2 separate regions of the Homo sapiens genome follow, and region 2 is linked to region 1. The links come from fine-mapping of genetic effects on plasma protein levels. Region 1 holds a variant in brackets. A gene starts in the other region. All regions are shown on their forward strands.

Region 1 (4,382 bases):
ATCATGTTGACTCTGTTTTCAGGTGGAACCCAGGGTCTCGCCACTTCCTGTCGTGTTCTCCACGATGACATCCTAGCCAGAGCCCCACTTTTGCAACAGATTCTCATCTGCCCTTCTTCCTCCTTCCCCTCCAGCAGTGAATGGGATTGCGTCCCTGCTGAAAGCCTGCCTGTGGCTCCTCACCTCACCCTGCCAAGGCCAGGGCTCTCTTCTGGGCCTGGCAATGCCCTGTGTGATGGGCCTCCTCTCCTATGACTTACTCCAGGGCTCACTGCCCGGGCACCTTCTGGAGCACACCAAGCCGAATCCCTCCCCGGGCGCTTTGCCTTTGCTTTTCTCTTCCTGCCTAGAGTGGTCTTCCCCCAGGTGCCCACAGGGCTGCTCCTGCAATTCCCCAGGTCTCTATTCAAATGTTACCCCATCAGCACAGCTTCTTCTGATCAACCTCTCTAAAGACAAATCGGTCCTCCTGCCCCTCCCCAGGGCTCACCACTCCTCCCTTGCCTGCTTTATTCTTCTAGACTGGGGCTAGCAAACTTTTCCTTAAAGGGCCAGAAAGCAAATGTTTTCACCTTTGCAGGCCACATGGCTTCTGCATGCAATTATTCAAGGCTGTCACTATAGCGTATAAACGGCCGTAGGTGATACATAAACAAATGAGCGTGGCTGTGTTCCAGTAAATCTGTTTACATAAAAAGGTGGCAGGCCAGATTTTGCCAATAAGCCATAGTTTGTAGACCCCTGTTTCAAATAAAGGCTATTCCATGTTTACTTGCTATCTGGGTTTGGTTTTGTTGGTTTTTTCCGATCTCTCATTATGGAATCGAAGCTCCACTAGAGAATGCACACACTTTTCTTCACTACTGTAACTTCAGTGCTCACAAGAGCAATGGGCCATGAATTCAATATTCATTGGATGAATGAATGAATTCACCAACATGATACACTTTATTTCTACTATCCTTCATATATCTCCTTCCTCCAATGCAATAGATACTCCTTCTGATCAATCTATCCCCTCAATATTGTTTGCTTATATTTTATTCTAACCAGACTTTGCTCTCCTTGATGGCAGAGGTGAGCTTATTCCCTTCCTTAGGTCCAATACGCATCAGATGACCTAACAGATAGAACCTACCCAACAGATTTGTACTGAATGAAGGAATCTATCAAGAAAACAAGATCGAGGTAAGAGAAGGGAAGCCTAAGCTGAGGTTGGTGACAGGAGCTTACAGGAAAAAGGGTATCTTAGGAGGGTAATTGCTAGCAATTCTCACTGATTATAGAAAATGGAGATGATATTCTGTTCTACTTTTTGCTGCTCAAACAATACCTGGAAGGCTTTTTTCCAACCCAAGTCCCCATACTTAAACAAACAAACAAAAAAATTGTGGCAGCATATGATGTTTTAGAGAAATCCAGCCAGGATAGTGAAAGGAAGGAAACCTGACACGCGAAGAACAGTTGAAAAACTGGTGATGGTAAAAAAATTGAGACTGCTTAGCCTAGAAAAGAAGAGACTTAGAGAGGTACATGCGAGCTGCCTTCCAATACTGAAAAGGTTGTCAGATTTAAGAGGGATTAAATTCTCTACGAATTCTCTAGAAATCGAATAACCTTGTAAAATTTACAGGGAGGTAGGTTTTAGTTCAATATAAGAAAGAAATTTCTAGGGATTGGAGCCATCCGAAAACAGAGTGAGCTGTCATCAGAAGATGTATTTTCCAACACCAGAAATTTTCAAAATGAGATGGACAACTTGACCCGGGCAACCAGGAAGAGCCTGGAAGGATGTGGGCTTGAGGTCAAGGTCTTTGCCCAGGTAACAAGTGTTATTTTCCAACTGAGATTATATGATTCTCCAGAAAGCTACGGAGAGGAAGAAATGCATCCAAAAGTGGAAGTGATGACCCAACATGCTAGCCATTGTCTCAAAAGGTCTTTGGGGTCATGATACAGGGCTTCAAACTGGCCCAGATTTAGGCACTTTATTACCAGCTGACATATCCCCATCAGAGAAAATTTTTCAATGGATCATCTCAAAGCTAAAACAAAGAGCTGGGTAGTTTAAGAAAAAGGGACCTGGGCCAGGCGCGGTAGCTCACGCCTGTAATCCCAGCACTTTGGAAGGCCAAGGAGGGCGGATCACATGAGGTTGGGAGTTCGAGACCAGACTGACCAACATGGACAAACCCTGTCTCTACTAAAATTACAAAATTAGCCGGGTGTGGTGGCGCATGCCTGTAATCCCAGCTATTCGGGAGGCTGAGGCAGGAGAATCACTTGAACCCAGGAGGCAGAGGTTGCGGTGAGCCGAGATTGCACTATTGCACTCCAGCCTGGGCAACAAGAGCAAAACTCGTTCTAAAAAAAAAAGAATAAGGGACCTATTCCAGTCATAAGAAATAAAGTGTTCAAGAGGCCCAACATTCGCTGCAGCCTTCACAGCTGCCTGTTAATTCCTCTGTTTTCACTGTGAACAGAAATTCTAACTCCTACTCACAGATGATGCAAACTTAATTTTCTTCCTTAGAATTTCCACTTCACACCTCTAACCCACTATTTTTCAATAGATGACTTTACCT[C/T]CTACTTCTCAGAGAATTAAGTGGCCATCAGAAAAAAACACCATCTACTTTCTACCAGTGTTTTGCAAATCTCATTCCTACCTACTACTGTGTATCTTATATCAGTGAATTTTCCATCATGTGCCAACTCTTCAGTCAAGAACCTAGCTTACATTCTTGATGTTGCCCTTTCTTCCTCCCCAACAGATAAACACTCAGCAAATTGCGCTGATTCAGATTAATTAAAATTCCCAAGTCAATGCATTTCCTCCTGACAGTCTCCGAACTCTTTGTAGCCTCGAGTCCTTCCTATTTCCTGAGTGACATTTCTAAAACACAAAAGCATATCACTCCCCTGCCTAAACCCATCCAGGGCTCCCCATGACTATCAGGATAAAACCCACACTGCAGAGCAGGGCATAAAGTGTTCTCCTCGCCTGCCTCTCCAGTCTCACTGCTACTGTCACTGCACTTTCAATACGTTCTTCCTGTGTATTAATTTTCTGTTGTTGCTGTCACAAATTACCACAAACTGAGTGGTTTAAAACATCATACATTTATCTTCGGGTTTCGAAGGTCAGATGCCCAACCCAGTCTCCCTAGGTTAAAATTCAGGTGTTGGTAGGGACATGTGCTACTCTGGAGGCTCCAGGGGGGAATCGATTAGGTTGGTGCAAAAGTAATTGTGGTTTTTGCCATTAAAAGTAATAGCAAAAACTGCAATTACTTTTGCACCAATCTAATATTTCTTTGCCTTTTCCAGCTACTAGTTGCTGCCTGCATTCCTTGGCTCCTGGCCCCTTCCTCCATCTCCAAAGCCAGAATCAACAGGATGAGTCCTCACATCACATCCCCCTGACCTCCTCTTCTGCCTCCATATTCCACTCTTAAGGGCTCTTGTGATCATATTGAGCTCACCTGAATAATCCAGGAAAATCTCACTATTTTCAGGTCAGCTGCTTAGCAAACATTCCATCTGTGACATAAATCTGCTTTTGCCTAATATGTAACCTAATATAGTCACAGGATTTTTTCTGTGACCATGATTCTGCCAAACACACAATTCACACCTAACTTGTAGTCCCACATCCATCCATGGGCTATTTCACATACTGGTCCCCTACCTGGAGAGCACCTTCTCTCTTACATAAGCCCACCCCACTCCCATTGTTTGACTAATTCCTATGGCCCTTCAGGATCCAGCTATCACATCCTTCCTTCTCTGGCAAGCCTCCTATAAGCCTGTGAGGTTGGGATGAGTACTTCCATTCTGCATTCCAATGAGCCCTCCATGCTTACCTGTAAGGGATGCATAGTAAGCCATTACTTATTGTACTCTCCTAGAGAAACATTGTCCCATTTAACTCTATATCCAGAGTGACTAGCCCAATTCCTCGCATCTAGTACGTCCTCAACACAGACCTAGCCATTCAGATCCATTCCAGTCTGCTGTATTTAACTCCTGGGTTAAACTGCACTCCCAGGACCTCCATAATCAACCCAAAGGTTCTTTTTCTTTTCTATTTTTCTAAACCACTTCTCATTTTGTCTCCACTTCCTTGTTTGCCTTTTATGTAAGCATATGTGTATACGGTAATGATTTTTTTCCTCTTACTTCAAGTGATTTATCTTTAAAGGCTAACTTCACATATTCTCTGTGGATTCCTAGCAATAACCTAGAAAGCAGATAGGCAATCCCTTCAGAGTGTCAATATTTATTTATGTCTACATTTTGTTGACTAAATGATACAGATTCTAAGCCTTCAGGGCAGAGCTCTTGGATAATGTGCTTTGTTTACCTATTAGTGCACCAGTGAC
Region 2 (4,372 bases), not on the chromosome of region 1:
ACACTCAGGTAATAGGTGTCACAATCACCATTTCCTCTTTGCGTCTTTCCTTCTCACCACACCTCGTCCTCGTGGTTTTTCCACCCCTTTGGCCTTCCTCTTCCCCTCGTTCATGGTTTTTGTTCCCCCTTCTCCGTTCTCTGAGCTGGGCAAGCCTCCCCTCACTCCCAACCCCACACCTAGCCTTTGATCCCCAGCCCAGGGCAGTCCTGCCCAGCCAGGGGGAGAGGGTTTTTCTAACGCCGCTGAATCCTTCCCTTTGGGAGTCCCTCATAGCCTACCGCCCCATAACCACTTTCATACCAGACAGAGAAAGGGGGGTGTTGGCAGCTCACTGAAAGGACATTAGGGACACAGGAGAGTTTCTAGGGCTCTTGGCTCCCCCTTTAGGGGACCAGGAGGGACAGCGATCCATGGCCAAAGAAATGCTTGGAGAGACCAGGAGGTGGGAGATAGACTGGGTTAGTTAGGGCGATGTGGGGGCTGTGTAGGTCAGTTTCTACCTGGGGGCTGTGTAGGTCAGTTTCTACCCGCTCCTAGGTCTCAAGGGAAGCCCGGGACTCACCTGGGGCCGGGGTCTAGACCGCATTTAAAGGGATGGGGTGCAGCCTGTAGAAACCAAGGAGCCACCCTATACCAGGGGCAGGAGCAGTGGGCGGGAGAGCGGTTTGGGGGTTTGCTGTGTGAATGCAAAGGAGGCCATCCTGTTGCAGGAGTGTGGAACTGGAGGATCAAGGTGTGATCGCTAAGGAATTGGCGCTGGGGGTCGTTTTAGGGCCTAGCACGAAAAGTTGTGCCTTGTCTGCTGTTGCTTCTCCAGAAACCTTCCCTCATGTACGGCGGGAGGTGGGACTGGGACAGAAACTTTGCAGATAGTTTTGAATAGTGGGGTAGGGAGGAAAGGAAAGGCAGCCAGGGGCGTATGTAATCAGCAGTGAGAGTTCGGGGAGCCCGGGCAGGGGAATGTCCCGGGTCGTAGCCAGACTCCATCTCTTTCCCAAACAAAAGAAAACTCCACTACCCGTCGGGCGCCTCTTCCCCGCCCCCCTCCCGTTCCAGCACTATCGGTCCGAAGTGTTTGGGACTGCAGTGCCCGGGTAGGGGTAGTCAGAGGCCGGCCCCTCCACTCCGAGGCCCAGATGTTGGGGGGGAGGTCCCAGGAGTGACGGGGTGCGCCCCCCCCCGCAAGGAAACTCACCTTCCAAAGCTGCGGCCAACGAAGCCCAGCAGAGCAGCACCCGGAGCTCCATGGCGCCGCCTCACTCGGGTAGGATCCGAACTGAGTTTGGGGGGCCCTCGCCCCCCCAGGTCTGACTCTCCCTGGGCGGGTGGACGCCGATACTCCGCGCGGGACTCCTCGTCGGGGCCCTCAGCGCGGGCCCATGCGAGCGTGCGGGGCACCGGGCGGCGGCGCCAAGTGTGGCCCCGCGTCTGTGCCGCGCGCGCGGGCGGCGGGCCCGGAGCGTGCTGGCAGTGGCCGCGCCGGGCGGGCGCGCAGCAAGACGTGGCTGGAGTTGGGGTCCCTCCGGGGCCTCGGGGTCCCGCCCCGGGTGGCGGGGGCTGAGCCGGCCGCTCGCGGTCTCCCCCCCTCCCTGGAGTGGCTCTGCTCGCGCCGCCGGGCCGAGTGCTCTCCTCGCGGGCGGGGATGGTGGGAGCCCGAGCGGGGACGGAGCGGGAGGGAGGGAGACTGCGGCGCGGAGCCGGGCGGGCCGGGCCGGGCAGGGGCTGAGCTGCGCTGGAACTGGGCCGGGCGGCGCCGGGCCCGGGAGGGAGGGGCGCGCGGGGGGCGGGGGCAGCTCTCCCAACGCGGGGGCTCCGCGAGTGAGCCCCGGGCGCGCTGATTGGAGCTCACGCTACTGAATAATTCATGAGGGAAGCGGAGAGGGGCACCGAGTGGAGCAGGTCGGGAAGTTGAGAGAAAGTTTGGAGAAGGGGGAGGGGCGGCGGGTGAGGAACCCCGGGACCGCCCAGATGTGCGCCGTGGCGGTGCGCGCTGTCCAGGACCGAGCATGTCGGGGCTGGGGCCCAGGGACCCCCGGGACAGGCCCGAACCCGGCTGGCACCAGGGAGCAGAGAAAACACACACCCAGCAGCAACACGGAGGGCCGCCCAGGCGTGCACGTAAATGTTCACCGCGCACACAAAGCCCGCTCTGACCTTGCTGCGGACTCTAGATGCCGCTCTTGGATGCGCCCACCACCCTCTAGTGGGCGCAGGGACTGCGTTTTGGGGGAAAAGGAAGGAAAAGGGAGTAGAAGCTTTGGAGAATTGACGGCCGCCCAGGGGGCCTCAAGGAGCAATCCCAGTTTGGATAGCCTTGCAGCGAACGTTCACACAGTCACCCCATAAACATTCAGTGTTGGGGACCTACTGTGCGCGCAACCAAGCCCTGAAAAATGTCCAGAGGAGGCGCGCACTAAGCTGCGCTAGGGAGTAGAGAAAAATCGAGGAAACAACGGTAAAGAAAAGGTGGGTGTGGCGGGCGCGGTGGCTCACGCCTGTAGTCCCAGCATTTTGGGAGGCAGAGGCAGGCGGATCATTTGAGGTCAGGAGTTCAAGACCAGCCTGGCCAACATGATGAAACCCCGTCTCTACTAAAAATACAAAAATTAGCTGGGCATGGTGGCGCGCGCCTGTAATCCTAGCTACTCGGGAGGCTGAGGCAGGAGAATTGCTTGAACCGGGACCTAGGAGGCGGAGGTTGCAGTGAGCTGGGAGCTGAGATCGCGCCACTGCACTCCAGCCTGGGCTACAGAGTGAGACGAAATCTCAAAAAAAAAAAAAAAAAAAAAAAAGGTGGGTGTGTCCGAGAGGGTGAGGGGTCCGGCTAGATCTCCAAATCGCCCTTCTCACTCTCACTCTCGTGTTTTGGGGGGGCTTCCCCGCCGCCCGCAGCCATGACCCCTGAGGCTGGGGCTGCGGCTGCGGCTGCTGTCTTTCCTGAGCTGTTTCCTGTCTGGCTCCTGGGGGCCCTCGGGATGGCTGGGAGGGGCCCTTCCTCTCACTGCCAACTCCCCTCACCCTCCCATCAGTTAGCGGGGAGGGTCCAGCACAGCCGTGCTCCTCCCACCAACCCCCTTCTACTTCAGGGAACTTAACAGTATGGGTTACTGGATAGATGGATTGGAGGGGGTGCTGCTCCAGGAGTCAGCCCCTCCAAGGGGCAGAAGGAAAGGACTTAGACTCCCACAGTAATTAGCGGGGACAGATTTTTTTTTTTTTTTTGAGACAGAGTCTCCCTCTATTTCCCAGGCTGGAGTGCAGTGGCGTGATCTGGGCTCACTGCAACCTCCGCCTCCCAGGTTCAAGCGATTCTCCTGCCTCAGCCTCCCGAGTAGCTGGGATTACAGGCACAGGGCACCAACCCCGGCTAGTTTTCGTATTTTTAGTAGAGACAGGGTTTCGCCATGTTGGCCAGGCTGGTCTCGAACTCCTGACCTAAAGTGATCCACCCACCTTGGCCTCCCAAAGTGCTGGGATTACAGACGTTAGCCACCGCGCCCAGCCGGAGGACAGAATCTTGAGGAGCCCAGCAAGAGAGACGTTGGAGCCCAGCAAGAGAGACGTTGGAGTCCAGGATGCTTGGGGGGCTGCCAAGCGCCCTTACGTCCCAGAAAGGACAGCCGGGCCTGTGATAACCTCTTGTCCCGGCTTACTTATCTTCCTGCTGCAAGAGGTGTTCCCCACACCCCTGCCCTTCCTTGCTGTTCTGCCTGGGTCCTGCGCCCGGGTTGGGGGGGGTGGGCCGGTCACCGAGGGCAGGAAACAGCCGGCTTCACTGGAGCCAGGCAGACCAGGCTGGAGCTGGGAATTCCCTCCTCCCTCCCCGATGCAGGCCCAGTCTCCCCTTCTCTTATTCAGCTTCTCCCTCGGGGTTCTCTGCAACCCTCTCCCAAACCCCTGCCCTGCCTTTTGCCACTCTCACTCTGTACCCAGATCCTGTAGCCTCTAAAAGTTATGTCTTCTGGCTGGGGACAGTAGCTCAGGTCTGTAATCTCAGCATTTTGGGAGGCCGAGGCGGGTGGATCACTTGAGCCCAAGAGTTCGAGACCAGCCTAGCCAACATGGTGAAACCCCTCTCTACTAAAAATACAAAAATCAGCTGGGCATCATGGCACACACCTGTAGTCCCAGCTACTAGGGAGGCTGAGGCACGAGAATCGCTTGAACCCGGGAGGCAGAAGTTGCAGTGAGCAGAGATTGCACCACTGCACTCCAGCCTGGGCAACAGAGCCACACTCTGTCTCCAAAAAATATATAAAGTAAATAAATAAGTAAATAAATAAATAGGCTGGGCGCAGTGGCTCACACCTGTAATCCCAGCACTTTGGGAGGCCGAGGCAGGCGGATCACCTGAGGTCAGGAGTTCGAG

Which allele goes with the higher level. Positions count from the first base shown, and alleles are read on the strand shown. Strength reflects both the effect of a copy and how common the allele is.
As copies of T replace C in region 1, the plasma level of the protein whose gene starts at base 1,743 in region 2 goes up (weak association).

Evidence for each region. PIP is the chance, under the fine-mapping model, that this variant and not a neighbour inherited with it causes the effect. The UK Biobank Pharma Proteomics Project read protein levels with antibody pairs (Olink). The fine-mapping took linkage between variants from a reference panel, not from the people measured, so its PIPs are less certain.
Region 2: it holds the start of EPHB4, and the variant in region 1 is fine-mapped to the plasma level of the EPHB4 protein (UK Biobank, PIP 0.99).

What each region holds. Positions count from the first base shown.
Region 1 is chr13:106,125,163-106,129,544 of GRCh38, forward strand. No RefSeq gene overlaps it. Among named protein-coding and RNA genes, the nearest start is that of LINC00460, 250 kb to the right of the region's middle. The variant C/T (reference allele first, on the strand shown) is at 2,586.
Region 2 is chr7:100,825,781-100,830,152 of GRCh38, forward strand. EPHB4 (EPH receptor B4) reads right to left here and starts at 1,743. Exons shown (of 17, transcript NM_004444.5): 1 at 1,199-1,743. The coding sequence starts at 1,250. It also overlaps a transcript of SLC12A9 not described here. RefSeq lists enhancers at 1,747-2,542, 3,339-4,134.